Homo sapiens: one gene and its partner. The protein of the gene in region 2 purifies or fractionates together with the protein of the main gene of each other region. This does not show direct contact. Each region holds a gene or a part of one and is shown on either strand. Other genes may lie near its edges.

Region 1 (3,500 bases), on a different chromosome or scaffold from region 2:
CAAACGTGTCAATATTTATAGATCTTTTTGCAGATACCTGTCAGCAGTAGAAGATAGGGGTGAGCATTTGGGGTAGGTGTGTATGTGAATACTGTGTTGTGGAACTGGAAAAGGAAGTAGAGCAGGGAGGAGGTAGAGAAGGTGGAGACGGTCTCACTCTTCAGTTTATAGGCTTTTATTACTGGGAATTGTTCTCTCAGTGTCTGTTCGTGTCTCTCCCCATCTATTAATAAATGTTTTCCCGGTGTCCACATGTGTGGGGTGCACTCATTTAACTGGCCCCCCAAATGAAAGAGAGACCCTGGAGGTTCTAACCACACCATCTACTTTAAATCTGTCTCCTTATTTTCAGCTTTAAGCCTCTTGCTACTCAGAACCACCATGACTTGAACCAGTGAAGGGGGTTCTGCAGGCAGGAATTCTCTCACTTCTTACTGGCATCCTCCTTGGCAAACATTTTAGGTCATAGTTTTCCCCTCCTATGCCAAATCGATTACCACTCTGCTTATTGTCTTCAAAACATTAGATTAAATCTTTCATCCATGCCTGTCACTTTGTACTCATGTTCCTATGATTTTGCATCTTTTAAAAATTCCTTTACTGTTGTTTTACTAGAGTCTTAGAGAAAGGAGGCAGAACATGGGTGGACAATTAGTTATGTTAAACCAGAAGTCCTGATATTTGAGAAAACAAATCAGACAAATTATATTTTTCCCTGAGTTTTTTTTATTTTTAAATTTTTATGTGAAATTAACTTTGTTTTTCTTTTAAAAGAGGTGTGTTTCAGGATAGCTTTTCTATTTAACTCTGCTTCTGTTGTTTTCAAGTAGTATAGTACTCACAGATAAGGCAACTTTCTTTTTCAGTTCTTGTCGACTTTTACCTGGGCCTTCTCCTCTTTCCTTTTCCTTGGCGTCCCTCTGCTGCTCACTTCTAGTTCCACTCTGCCAGTTTCTCCTTACTGTGGGCCATTCTCCTGAAAGTGGTTCTTGGCTCAGTTTGACAAACACCCAGGTGCTACATTGCTTCAGCCCTTTAAATCTTAACACACACTGCAGCTATTGGATTGGGCGAAACTGCTTTTTAGCGTTGCTTTCATCTTGTCCTGTTGTACTTTGAATGCATGCTTCTTGGCTGCGCTCAGGTTTTCCTATGATCAGAGTGGGTCACACTTCCCTTGCTTCCCTTTGCTTTCTCCTGCACACAAGCTAAGACCATGGAGGTCTTATAGCTGTTATTGCTTTGTCTTTACCCTCTTGTATCTTGAGGTCCATGAAGATATCTTGTCACCTGGTTTTATGTAAATGTTCGTGGGTTTTTGGTTTTGTTCTCCAGTCACTTTTTTATGTTTATGTGTACAATTCAGAAAAATTAAAAAACTTTGCCACCATCTTCCTAGAATCCTCACTTAACAACTTTATGGAAAAATTTTAAAATATATATTCTGTGGCTATTAATCCTGTATTCTTAGAATGCTTGCTTTTGCCTTTTGAGGCTAGGGCACCTCTGTTCCTTTAGTCTCAAATGGAATAGTTTCAGTTTCAATAGCACTTTGCCTCTTTGAAGAACTTTTATAAAATTCTTATGTTTGATTTATTTTCACTATAATTTGCCCTCGATACCTAAATGTTATTTTTTTTCTACTTTTCTTATTGAATAGCATTTATTTATTGGGTATATAACCAATATTATTTGAATAGATCATCTTCTTAAAGTGGGAGTACCAGAACCAAAACTAATTTAGCTAATATGTATTAAACTTACACAGATAGAATGCTCTATTAGGTGCGGGTGATACAGCAATGTAATATTTATAGATATTGGCCATATTTTTTTATTTATGAATTCAATTAGGTAGTAAATGATAGGGAAAAGGAAAATTATTTGGATATACTCTTTAAGATTAAACAAGTGTATGAGCAAGGCACTGTTAGGTTCTAAAGATAGAATGGTTTACAAGACACATTTCTTGTATTTCTTAGTGTGTTGTGAGGGGACAGCTGAGTAAAACAGGCAATTACCATGTTTATTTATTTATTGGAAATGCATCATAAGGGTAAATGCAGGAGCAGCCAGCTTTTTACAGGAAGGAAAAGGGAGGAAAAAGGATATGGTTCATAGTTTGGAGAATAAAGCTAGCTTCTTAGAATCCCCTTTTGATTTTTTTTCAATGCAACTGCAAATTTTTTTAAACTTGGATAATTTACTTTATTCTCTCCAGAATAATCTCATATTTTATTCTTTCATTTGGCCCACTGGAGAGCAGTTTTGCATTTTGTTTTTCTTGATACAGTTCCAGCTGAGGTTGAACCAAGTGACTGCATCAGAAATTTAGATTAAGAAATTGGAAAGGAGCTGAGGAAAAAATTACAGCATAATTTTTTTTTTTTTTTTTTTTTTTGCTTCATATAGTAAGTTTACCTCATATACTTGGGGAAAGAAAACATCTGTGTGTATGTGTGTGTATTGAGAAGTTAACTGTAAATTTACACAGTATCTAAAATGGAACTAGGCTAAAGTGAATATTTTTCTTTCTAGATCCCATACAGTGGTCCACAGACCAAGTCCTGCATTGGGTGGTTTGGGTAATGAAGGAATTCAGCATGACCGATATAGACCTCACCACACTCAACATTTCGGGGAGAGAATTATGTAGTCTCAACCAAGAAGATTTTTTTCAGCGGGTTCCTCGGGGAGAAATTCTCTGGAGTCATCTGGAACTTCTCCGAAAATGTATGAAATTACAGTTATTTCTTTACATTGTAATTTAAGCTTAATTTTATTTCCTTGTAACTTTGTTTTCATCTTAGTTGTTTATTGATAATGATAAGTAATAAGCAATAATAATTAACATTTATTTACTGTATAATGCTATGCTGAAAGCTCTATATGTTCTTTAATTCCTATAGTAACACCATAAGTCATTACTTTGCTTATTTTTTAGATAGGAAAGTGAGGCTTTGAGAGCCCCATAAAGTCACAGCTAGGAAGTGGCAGAGCCAGGATTCAAGCCCAGGCTAACATTAGAATCCAAGTTCTTAAATCAGATGCTGTGCCCTACACTTAGCCCTCTTCATATATTCCATTTGTTGCCTTCTGTTTGATCAGCTCTTACATTTACTGCTCATCTAGAAACGGAAGAGATCATTTGTTTACAGGTGGCTTCCTACCCATTCTCTTCATTATTGATGAGATTAAATCTTTTTTGAAGTCTTTACTATTAATTGAATAGAGTCTTAAGAGGGAAGGAAGTGTATGCAGCCACCTTTTGGCATTGGAAGCCATTGGTTATAAGTTTTTCCACTTATAACTTGTAAGGCTTCAGACATTATTATGATTAAGTGACCATGTAAAGAAATTGGATGAGGCAGGCAGATCACTTGAGGTTAGAAGTTCGAGACCAGCCTGGCCAACGTGGTGAAACCCCATCTCCACTAAAAATACAAAAAATAGGCGGACAAGGTGGTGCGTGTCTGTAGTCCTACCTACTTGGGAGGTTG
Region 2 (3,500 bases):
ACTGTTCTGAACCCATTTTCTGAACTCTGTTCTCAACAGGTATATTTGAATGTTTTCATTGAACACATGACTAACTCTTGTAATCCCCCTCCCCTTTTTGATGTTCAATAGATGTGAAGACTACTAGCCTAAGTGAAAATATATTCCACTATTGGTGAAAGTAATGTTTAACACTTAATGAGCACTTATATGCTGTTACATGCTAGGCACTAGTCCAAATGCTTTTCATGTGTTTATTCTCTCATGTACTTCTCAGAGTAATACTGAGTGGTATAGAAATTACTGCCACCTTACAGGTGACAGAACTGAGGCAGAGAGGGGTTACAAAATTTGCTAAAGTTCACACAGTTGTAAGTAGGGGAACAGGGATTCGGACTCAGGGAATCTGACATCAGAATTTGCAGTAATGGCCCAGGGCTGTACTGTCTCCTAGATGCATTTCTCATAATTTTGTCAATGAATTCCGTGTATGGTTGGTGAATGGGGCATTCTTTATTTGTCCTCATTTCCCAGTAATAGTTGACAAGTGTCCCCCAGTGCTGTGTATGAACTGATCAAGCAGCAGCCTCTCTATAATTTGCTTAGAGATGCTTTACCTTTTCTCTAGAAATGTTGCAACCCTAGAGGCAGAGGCCCGCACAAATGTCTTTACTGAGTGCCGGACACTTTTTACTTTGCCTTCAGGGCTTTTTGTTTCTGAGGGTGAAGTTGTACAGAGAATAGGTTTTAGAAGTTGCCTGGGGTGACAGAAATCCATTATGACTGTCAAACTCTTAGCTGTAATTATACCGTATGGTCAGAAGTATTGGTATGTAATGAGTGTAGTTAATTTCCCGCAGGTTGCTCTATGTGATATCTTCTTTATTTTAGAGAAAAGGATAAAAAGATCAGATTTATTAACACTGAGTTTTTCCTGAGTCTTGGGCAGAGCTGGCATTTATTTTGGGTGACTGGTTAGTGGATATATTGCCTCCAAGATCACTTCGACTATGCACTTCAGGGCCCCTAAGACCCAATCCTCACCCTCTGTTCCCCACTTCCTCCACCCGTACCCTGAAGCTGGTGGCTTAAGCTTAGTCATTTACCAGCATTTCATAAATGTACTAGTTTTTTCCTCAGGCAGGATTGGGTTCTGGAATTGTATTCATCAGGTTACGAAGATGTTATATTCTTGCCTTTTGTAATCTTCCAATTTGGTTTGTAAGACAAGTCATTCATCAAACGATAAGCAGTGTGAAATTTTTATAGGTATAATGAGCTATCGCAAGACTGAGGTAAGATTTGGACCCGGGGCAGAGTAGTGAAGAAGGTGGAATTGATTTTGGATGAGATTGAATCCATGATGGGAAATAAAATGAGATTATCCTCCAGATATTTGGAAATTGGGGATTGGAGTTCAGATGTGAGGATATAGGGATTGGGGAGCCATCAATTTATAGGTGATGATAATTGAAACAGTAACATTTAACCAATTTTTGCAAAGGAAAAACTATAACGGATTGAACATTGTGGTGGCAGGAATCAAAGAACAGTCCTTGATAACCTAGGGAAACAGAGAATGTGTGTGTTGGCCAAGTGAACCACGTAAAAATAAGGAAAAACGTAGAACACTTAAACAGATTTTCAGTAAGATAATTCTTATTATAGCTACTGTGTGCTGTGATAGGAGAATACACCTTTTCAAGATTGAAGAAAATTGACTAAATACTAGGCAACAAACAAAGACTCAGATTCCAAGGAGTAGAAATAAAGTAGGATCTGTCACAATGCAGTACAACTAGAAATTAATAATAAAGATCAGTAAATTAAAGTTCCTTCCACCTGGAAAATTTAAAACTCTTAAGCAACTGTCTTAGTACATTTTGTGCTGCTATAAAAGAATACCTGAGGCTGGGTAATTTATAAAGAAAAGAGGTTTATTTGGCTCACAGTTTTCTGTAGGCTGTACAAGAAGCATGGCGTCAGCGTCTGCTTCTGGTGAGGGCTTCAAGAAACTACTCATGGTTGAAGGAGAGCAGACTTCACATGGCAAGAGAGGAAGAAAGAGAGTAGGAAGGTGCCAGGCTCTTTTAAACAGCCACATTGTTAGTGAACTAAGAGTGAGAAATCACTTATTATTTTGAGGTGGCATCAAGCCATTCATGAGCGATCTACCCACATGATGCAGACACCTCCGACTAGGCCCCACCTCCATCACTGGGGCTCAGATTTCTCTGTCTTTATTTATTTATTTATTTTTTTGAGACAGAGTTTCGCTCTTGTTTGAATTTGGAAGTTTCCTTCTTTTTTTTTTTTGAGACGGAGTCTCGCTGTCACCTAGGCTGGAGTGCAGTGGTGCGATCTTGGCTTCCTGCAGTCTCCGCCCCCTGCGGTTCATGCCATTCTCCTGCCTCAGCCTCCCGAGTAGCTGGGACTACAGGTGCCTGCCACCTTGTCCGGCTGATTTTTTGTATTTTTAGTAGAGACAGGGTTTCACCATGTTAGCCAGGATGGTCTCAATCTCCTGACCTTGTGATCTGCCCGCCTTGGCCTCCCAACCTTCTTTTTCTATACTCTGGAAATTTTCCTAGCATTTGAATTATTTAATTTTTAAAAGTTTAGAAGAATTTTCTGTGGAACTGTCTGAGGCTGGTGCTTTTCTTGGGTAGGTGGCTAGTCTTTTTTTGATAATTTCAATTTTCTCTATGGAAATTGGTTTATTTTTGCTTAAATCTTACTAGTTTTTTTCTATTTTTAACTCATTACTTTCTAATTGGTATTTATTAATACCTTCATTCTTTTAAATTTATCCTATTGTTTTTCTAACTTTGAATCAGAGGCTTTATTATTCTCATTTTTCTAAATTAATACATGTTTTTACAGCCATGAGCTCTCTTATGAGCATCACTTTAGGTTATACCATAAATTCTGATATACACTTGTCCTTGGTATTCATGGGGGATTGGTTCCAGGACCCCCACTCAGATACCAAAATCCATGGATGCTCAAATTCATTATATAAAATGGTGTAGCATTTACATATACTCCACACATATCCTACCATATATTTTATTTCTAGATCAATTATAATACCTAATACAAAGTAAATGCTACATAAATAGTTGTTATACTAAATTGTTTAGGGAATGACAAAAAAACTGAATATGTACAGACAAAACCATCCTTTTTTTTTCTCTCAAATATTTTCAATCCTTGGTTGGTTGAATCCTCAGATGCAGAACCTATGAATATGAAGGTCTGTATAATGTTTTCTAGAAAAAATATGCAATTTTAATTTGTTTTTACCCCTTTGACGCAAGGTTGCTGATATAGTTTGGATATTTGTCCCCTCCAAATCTCGTGTTGAAATCCAGTCCCCATGCTGGGCACAGTGGTTCACGGCTGTAATCCCAGCACTTTGGGAGGCAAAGGCGGGTGATACCTGAGGTCAGGAGTTTGAGACCAGCCTGTCCAACATAGCAAAACCCCATCTCTACTAAAAAAAAAATATACAAAAGTTA

What was found.
Region 1: the proteins of ZNF200 (region 2) and GABPA purify together in Homo sapiens (affinity purification with mass spectrometry; one large-scale study listed by BioGRID and IntAct). This does not show direct contact.

What each region holds. Positions count from the first base shown.
Region 1 is NC_000021.9:25,755,472-25,758,971, forward strand, and holds part of GABPA (GA-binding protein alpha chain), read left to right. Parts: intron 1-2,538; coding exon 2,539-2,733; intron 2,734-3,500.
Region 2 is NC_000016.10:3,228,659-3,232,158, reverse strand, and holds part of ZNF200 (zinc finger protein 200), read left to right. Parts: intron 1-3,500. UniProt on the Homo sapiens protein: Localizes protein arginine N-methyltransferase PRMT3 to the nucleus.